2 separate regions of the Homo sapiens genome follow, and region 2 is linked to region 1. The links come from fine-mapping of genetic effects on gene expression. A gene starts in region 1. The other region holds a variant in brackets. All regions are shown on one strand. Distances are between the middles of the regions. Region 1 holds the start of BTNL8 (butyrophilin like 8). Region 2 has its middle 3.5 kb from the start of BTNL3.

What was found. PIP is the estimated chance that this variant, and not a neighbour inherited with it, causes the effect.
Region 2: its variant is the best candidate, but not a certain one, in a credible set for the expression of BTNL8 in spleen (GTEx, PIP 0.56).

Annotation. Positions count from the first base shown.
Region 1 is chr5:180,896,744-180,901,148 of GRCh38, reverse strand. BTNL8 (butyrophilin like 8) reads right to left here and starts at 1,990. Exons shown (of 8, transcript NM_001040462.3): 1 at 1,790-1,990. The coding sequence starts at 1,838.
Region 2 is chr5:180,983,138-180,987,542 of GRCh38, reverse strand. It overlaps the pseudogene ARPP19P1. Among named protein-coding and RNA genes, the nearest start is that of BTNL3, 3.5 kb to the left of the region's middle. The variant A/G (reference allele first, on the strand shown) is at 2,472.

The DNA of each region.
Region 1 (4,405 bases):
ATTATTAAATGAGGCATGACTTTGCAGCCTGGTGTCTGACCAGCTTCTGACCTGGTGTAGCAGATGTTGAGGCCCTGCTCCTCACCACCCAACCCTGAGTCCCCCTGCAGTGGGATGGGCATTTCCCTGCCTGCTGACAGCTCCGTCCCTGGAGCCTGGCCTCTGCCTCTCTGCTGAGGGCTTCCTGCCACCCTTGGAACCTACTTAGCCCTGGCACAAGGCAGCTCAGAAGGTTTGCGATTTTAGCAGTCCTGGGCGGCACATCTCACCCAGTGGGGAAAGGAGACAGTAGATGTTGGAATGACTCTGAGCCACCATCTATAAAGTTCCTCCAAAGGTCCCAGTGGGACTGGGTCCCAGTTGCCACCGCAGCAACGCTCATTAGCGCACCCTCTATGGCTTTCCCCCTACTGGCTTCACTCTCTCCACTCCCTCACTTTGTTTCCCAGAATCACCTGCTCAACGAATCACTGGCAGGAAGGCCCTTGTCTTAGGTCAGGTTTGGGGACCCAGCGTATGCCAGCTGGGCTGCTATGGATGCTGCCTTCAGGGCTGTGTGGGGCTCTTGAGGCAAGGAAACATTTTTCAGGGTACCTCCATTTCTCCGGCCAGCCCTTGCTGCTGTCACCTCTCTTGCCTATAACATCTCCTTTCACTCCTTCCACTTCCTTCCCTTGAAAATAAGAAAGGAACAAGACTGTTGCTGCAACATGCCATGCACCCGTGCAGCTGTGTGCACTCTACATGCACAAGCTCATGCAGTCCTCACCACAGCCCCAGCAGGAATGTGATCGTATCTCCATGTCATCATAAGCAAACCAACACCTAAGGAAGCTGTGAACAATAAAGCTCACAAGAAAATGAAATAAGAGTTTTTAAAAATAAAATGTTTCTGTCTCCAAGATCATTTCCAGGATGTCCTGCTGCCTCACCCGGAAACAGAAGGGAAACAAAGAAGCTCGTCAGAAAATAAATGAAAACAAACTGAAACGAGAGCGTCTCCTGTTAGTAACACATATGGGTTTTTGTTTTAAGGAAACATGCTCTATGTTTTGATTGCCCTTATTTCTGTTTTCTTAGCTTCATTTAGCAAAAAAGATATAGGTGGACAGGTGGCAGGATGAACCTTCACAGACAGAAAGTGAACACAGTCAATCGAATCTTCTGTGGCTGGGTACTGACCATCTAGCCACCAGCATTCTACCCCAACCTCAAGCTTCCTCTGTGAATTGTATTCAGTCACTCAACATCCTATATACTAGGTTCTGTGTTAACAGTAACTGGAAGGAGAAAGAAGAGTGGATTTCTTCCCAGAATATGCCAGGTTTCAGCTAATTTCTCACCTCAAGACCTGTACACCTTCCTCCACCCTCGTGTCTCATACCACAGACATTTCTAACTCAGCATGTCTTTAGCTGGATACATTGTCTTTTCCCCAAAAATCCTAACTGTGTCTCTTCCCAGATGGACATCCATGTCAGCAACCTTGGTGCTCCAATAACCCTGCCTACACCACTCAGCCCATCTGGGAGAAACACTGAATTTATTCACCTTAACACGTTAGGTGTGTCCCCGTCAACGATCACGGTGCGTCTTCAACACCCGTGTTTCCATTATTTGGGGGCTACTATAATTGTTTCCACAGCGCCTGATCCTTCCCCAGGCTGAGGCTAGGAGAAGCCAAAGGAATGGAAACGACAAAGATGCCTTCATTCCATTATGCTGCAACCATTGTAGCTAAAGAACTCAAACTGTTAGTTAGTAAGGAGGAAACAAAGATGAGTCTTACCTGATCCCAGCTTGAGGAGACTCAGAACCAAACTGAGCATGAGAGCCATGGATGTGTTCTGTGAATGGACCTCACGGCATGGAAACGGATGACAGGAGAGGTGACGGATGGATTAGAGAGAAGAGGAGAACTGGCCTAATGCTCAAGGTGCGGAAGCCACGGAGAGGCTCTGCGTGAGCGGAGGGCAAACTGCGCTGTTCTGAGAGTCTACTCCATCGAGACACAGCTGTCATGTACCAGAAGTGTAGGGACTCTAGACTTTGAACCACTGCATAAATGTCTATATCTTATCAAGGAAGCAAAGATAGAAATAGTGTGGATAAGATTGGAGGTGAACTTTGTCCTGGGCAAAACGATGCCCTGTGTGGGTGAAACAGGAATGTCAGATGCGGAAATACTTTTCACGTCCAATCTGGCAGGCAGGGCTGTATGGCCATGGGATCTAGTCCTGAAAAACCTCATGTTAGCACTGGATAGTTTGGTGTCCAAGTAAATAGGCCATGCTCCATTAGTAGTAGCCTACAGCAGGTGACTTGACATTTCCTGGCACAGTCTGAGGTCCTTTTGCTTACCCCTCCATTCTCTGAAGTTCAGGGCCAGGACTGTAATCATGAGGCCAGATAAAAATAACTTTCCAGAACAAAACAGATCCTTAGTGTTAAACATCTGATACATTGGGAAAGGTGCCTGGGCAGGTTCAGACATGAGGAAACTTATTTATTATATAAACTAAGTTCCAGGGCAGCCACAATGAGAGATTTGCAGTCTTTTTAAGCACACGGAAACTCACAAAGTCACCACTTAACTAGATCAGAATGAAAATTTCCACAGATAACCATCAAAATAAACATACTCTAATCATAATGCAATTAAAATTAAAAAGTAATTCAAAAACATAGGAAACTCTATACACTAAGAAATTCTTATGTAACAATTTAAAACAACTCACGAGACTAAATCACAATAAAAGTTAGCATCTAGAATAGGACAAAATGAAAACACTGCATTTAGTCTAAAATCTAGAACACTGACAACACCAAATGCTGGTGAGGATGCGGAGCAACAGGAATTCTCACTGATTGCTGACAGGAATGCAAGACGGTACGGTTGTTCTAGAAGACAGTTCAGCAATTTCCTGCAAAATTAAACATACTTTTATCACCTAATCCAGCAACTGCACTGCTTTTTATTCACCTAAATGACTTGAAAACATATGTCCACATGAAAAATTGCACATGAATGTTTATAGCAGCTTTATTCATAATTGCCAAAAATGTTTGCAACCAGATATCATTCAATAATGATACATAGAATGTATACACAAACTATGGTACATCTATACAATGGAATATTACTCTGTGATAAAAAAAAAAAGGAAATGAGTTGTTGAATGTTGTAAGCAAGAGAGTAGAATAGAAAATTATTGATCTCATGCTGTCTCAGAAATACAGATTTACCAAGGATATATAGACCAAAATACCTTTTTATGAAGCTGCTGAGAAGGCACAGTATCCTCTCCATTCCAGTGGCAGCTATGCCCCACCCATGGCCATTCGAAGCCTAGGCCTAGGCCCAGTGGAACGGTCATGACCCAGGCTTCTGAACCTACAGGCTGCTCTGGCCCCCAAGGACCAAACAGTCCAACCCAGCAAGGAAGCCAAGCCTGGCCTGGTGAAGCAGTTGTACCCTCTCAAGCATGAGCCAAGCACCTTGACCCCAGAGAAGCATGCGCAATAGAATGGCAACAATACCCCCTTGTGTGCACACTAACTGGGGGCCCCAGACTCAGCCCCAGGAAAGCAATGTCTGAGATGGTGGAGCAGCTGTGCTCCCTTGGCACATAAAGCGGCCTGGTGCCCCACCTCCAGAAAAGCTATGCCCAAGCCAGAACACTGGTCTTATTCCCTCAGCACACAAACCAGCCCTGCATCCCACCCGAGGGAAGCTGTACCTGAGCTGGTGGAGTAGTTGTGCTCTCTTGGTGCCTGAGCTCAGTGTAATCTACTTTGCTACCACCACTCCCACAAATTACTGCAGTACGGGCCACTGAGGCATCCACTTGTCACTGACATTGATTATAGCTGAGAAGCTTCACAGAGACTACGCTACTGTGCCAGCCAGAAGCAGAGCCGATACACCCTACTCAGCACCCGAGGACCTATCAACAAGTGAAAGTTTTTTCTTAGAAAAGCTACTTTATAAGTTAGGAGAGGCAAATGTTCTACCAGATGCACATATATCAACACAGGGACACAAGAAACATGAAAAAGCAAAGAAACATGACTCTCCCCAAAAAGGCTGAGGCAGGAAAATCACTTGAATCTGAGAGGTGGAGGTTGCAGTGAGCCGAGATCGTGCCACTGCACTCCAGCCTGGTTGACAGAGTGAGACTCCATCTCAAAATAATAATAATAATAATAATAATAATAATAATAATATAACATTTTTAAAAGTCAGCAAGATTTGAACTAGAAATACCATTTGACCCAGCCATCCCATTCCTGGGCACATACCCAAAGGATTATAAAACATGCTGCTATAAAGACACATGCACACGTATGTTTATTGCGACACTATTCACAATAGCAAAGACTTGGAACCAACCCAAATGTCCAA
Region 2 (4,405 bases), 86 kb before region 1:
AATCCTACCTTAAGTACAAAGCCATTACAAATGCAAAAAAATCAAAGATTACAAGTCAATTTCTTTCTGCCTACAGTAATAGCTGAAATGTAAAGAGATCAACTTCAGAAAAAAATACATTGAAAAACATACCACTTTAATAAGACAAAACTGCAAATTAGATGAATAGAAATTAGGTAGATCCATTTATTTTTTAAATACAAGTATAATTTTGGAAGAGCTATTTGACAAATTCAGCATTAACTGCCAACTCTGTAGACATGTTTAACAACAACAACAAAACAAGACATTTACTCTTGGCCCTTTTAGTACAGGTGAAGTGTCCTATTGCATCACAAGTATTAGTAATGAAGTAACAGATCCAAGGGCATAATATTAAAGATGTTTTTTTCCAATTGCGATTTAGTTGAAAAATAACATAATACGAACATATATGAATGGCTATCAAGACCACCAGTGATCTGCAGAATACCTAGAGGCCTACGTACTTAGAAGGCTGAAACTAGTAAAACAGTATTAAAATCAGTGTTTTTATTCTAAGATGAGCAATGACAGAGTGAGATTTCTGATTCCAATTTTATAAGGTGCGGTGGGGAGTTGAGAGGAGATATTGGGGAAGACTGGCACTTTGTGCTGAGTTAGAGATGGGAATGTGGCTCAAATTAGTTAATATTCAGAGTAGGATATTGTTTTAGAAAATTTTAAATGCATTCTAAATTGTGGCATATTGAAAAGGATATTAAGGAACAATGATTCATTAGCCCTAAACACAATTTAGTGAGTGCCATCAGTAGGCTTAAGAAATAAGCAGGGATGGCAGATGATGAGGCAAAATGAGGTGAAATAGAAAATGGAAAGTGGAAAATATGCTTGAACATTGGAGAATGTGAAAAGACCACTAAAGAAACTGCTTTGGTGATCACTCAGAAGTGCTCTTCCCATTGGCTACCCGCTCCTGATCACCTCTTCCCATTGGCTACCCGCTCCTGATCACCTCTTCCCATTGGCTACCTGCTCCTGATCACCTCTTCCCATTGGCTACCCACTCCTGATCACCCAAACACCAATTTTAGAGCACAGCAGCAGTAACTCCCTTTATCTGCAATTTCACTTTCCATAGTTTGTTACCCGAGGCAACCTTGGTCCAAACATATTATGTGGAAAATTCCAGAAATAAACCATGTTTTAAATCACAAGCTGGTTGTGCACTGTGGCTCATTCCTGTAATCTCAGCACCTTGGGAGGCCGAGGAGGGCGGATCACCTAAGGTCATGAGCTCGAGACCAGCCTGGCCAACATGGTGAGACCCTGTCTCTACTAAAAATACAAAAATTAGCTGGGCATGTTGGCGGGCGCCTGCATTCCCAGCTACCTGGGAGGCTGAGGCAGAAGAACTGCTTGAACCCAGGAGGCAGAGGCTGCAGTGAGCCAAGGTCGCACCACTACTCCAGGCTGGGTGATAGAGCGAGACTCCCTCTCAAAAAAAAAAAATAATAATAAAATAAATCACAAGCCATGTAGTGATGAAATCTCATGATCCTCCTCCTCTGTCCTGCCTGGGATGTGAATCATCCCTTTGTCCTGCTTATCCACACAGGTTGTATACAACCTGCCCCTTAGTCGCTTAGTAGCCGCCTTGGTTGTCAGATTGAAAAAACATAGACTATACAGGGTTTAGTACTATCTGAGGTTTCAGGCATCTACTAGGGGTCTCGGACTGTATCTCTTGCAGATAAGGGGAGACTACTGTATTACATTTCAGCTTCCATAAAACTTTACTAATTCGGATTAAGAACACAAGCCTGATTTTGTAAAAAGCATCCATAAATATTCAGAGGTATAGTTTTGCTTCATCAAGTAAAAAGAGCAACTAATTCCAACTGTTGAAGTAGTAACAAGTAAAGGCTTCACCAGGCTTGCCTTGATGAATAGTTAAGACACATTTTCAGGTCAACAGCACAAGATTATTGAATAACTTTTATGCTACAAACGCTGCTTCCACTCATCGAAACAACCCAACAATCCTTACTATTCCAATTTGCTGAGAACCATGTCGGATGCTGCCTTCAAGAATGAAATGTTCCTCAAAACTGTTCTATCAAAGGCAGTAGCTATTGGACATAAAACAGGTGATTTATTTCAGACTTTAGTTAGTTTTCATGAAGTCTTCATCTCCAACTTCAGTTTATTCCAACATTAATTTATGATAGGACAGTTATTAAAATTAGCCATTTCTCAGACTATAGCTTTGAAATAATAAGAAAGGGACAATTGGGCTCACTAGTCAAAATCTTGATTCAAGTGATGATCCAATAGCTTACAAATGTCTTCAATAAACTGAGCTTTGGGGCAGGATGAAAAACAGAAAAATGTAAAACCTCTCTATCGCAATCACCAATAATGGAGGCTAGGCAATTACACCTACAAATCCTTAACGACAGACCTCTCCTAATGACAAACCCTGAGACTTG[A/G]GCACTGTGACTTACAGAAGGCCGGTTGGCTTAATGAGGAAATTTACTTTTAATAAAAAGACAATCAGCAATATTTTATTTTGGGCACTTAGTGTTTCACAGATCCTCAATACGTTTTGAGGTAGGTCAAATATTAATAGTGTATTTTACAAACAAAACTCAAGCAGTTGTTTTGTTACTTGTCCCAAACCACAGGAGCAGTTCTATCGTGGTCAGGAATAACAGGGTCTCTCTGACCTTTCAGATTAATCTTTCATGTGTGAAGTTAAGCGTAATCACTTGCAAATATTCGTGAAAAAAACCCAGAAGACTAGATATAGAAATTCTACTTTGGGATATTTTAAACTTCTTAAATTGATCCTATAATGAGTATATACTTGCTCTCATTACAAATATCTATATCTCTGATCTTTACAATTACAAATGAGCACAGGAGTGACTATGTTGCTTTTCTGCCTTTCGGGGTGAGTAGAGCAGGAAGATAATCAGTAAGCTTTCCTCAGAGCACTAGGCAGCCTTTAACTGAAGGTGCTATGTTGGAGGCACCATTGACTATGATTTGGGATCATAGGAGAGCAGGTATACTAATGGAACCAGGATTCAGAAAAGATGCCTGGATCCAAAAAGAGGAGGCTCTCTGCAAGTCAAAGATGAAGAGAAAGATAGTAACATCTGAAGTTACTGATCCTGAGTATCATGGTACAGCATTACAACTACTTGTGAGAGGAGCTCCTACAAGAGCAGTAAGCTTGTCCCAATAAAGTCTGTTAAAGTTCTTGCTAACTAGGTAAGCCACAAGTAAAACTAAATTGTTATTTTATTAAAGTGACATCTATAGAAGCAAATATCTAAACATTTTTAATATGAGTAAGTTTTACCTGTCATGTGAATTACTCTCATTGTCACAAGCCCAATTCTATTAGCTTGTCATAATTCCTAAAATAATGTACCAAAATTCAGCTCATCTTGACATAGGTTCTTGAGCCAGTATTCTGTACTGTTTGATTATAAAGTTCCTTTTATTTAAACAATTGTAGAATATTGGTAATAATAAAGGATTAAGAATAGTTAGCTTGAGCCTAGGAGTAAGGTTGCAGTGAGCTATGATTGCACTACTGCCCTAGAGCTTAGGTGACAGAGAAAGACCCTATCTCAAGAAAAAAAGAGAGAGAGAGAGAGATTAACAACTGAGAAATTAGAAGGAAAACATCATTATTGTGTTATTTAAAAGAGTAAGGATATAGACACCTATGCTTTCGTATAGAACAAACAACCCAATACCATTTGAGTCGAAGAACAAAAGGGAAAAAGCAGGTGGCAGGGGGCATAGAATGCAGAGTATTGAAGCCTTTTACTCTAGTGTCTCCAAAGTTGAGTGTGGAAGTAAAAAGTTTCTACATTTAAAAAGTTTATATAAATTATATGAATTGCAACTTTCATAAAAATCAAAATGAAAGGTTCTGCATAGGACAAAAGATATTCCTAAGCAACATATCGTATTTGCACAAGGCCACTGAATGCCATGGATATTAGTAACAAATGAAAAGCTTAAGTCTATGACAGATTGAACTAAGATTTCAGTTTGGTATTCTATAAGCCCGAGATTGTAAACTACTCTTATTATACAAAAGCTATAATGACTTACAGAGTTTTGTGTAGGACCTCTTGTGCTTCTGCTTGGCACATTATCTACTTTTTAAGTATGTGAAATAAATATAGGCATTTGTGAGAGGTTGTGCAAAATTATTGTATTTACAAAAATGGCACAAAAGTGAATTCAACAGTCATTGCACATCTTCAACAACAAAAGGTATTCTGACTCTACAGAACTGAATAAGAATATTAGCTTCGACGGCAGCTGTTAAGCACTAGGGTCACATAAGTTACACCAGAATGGGCAAATATTGCCCAAGTAAAATTCTACTGTTAAAGCT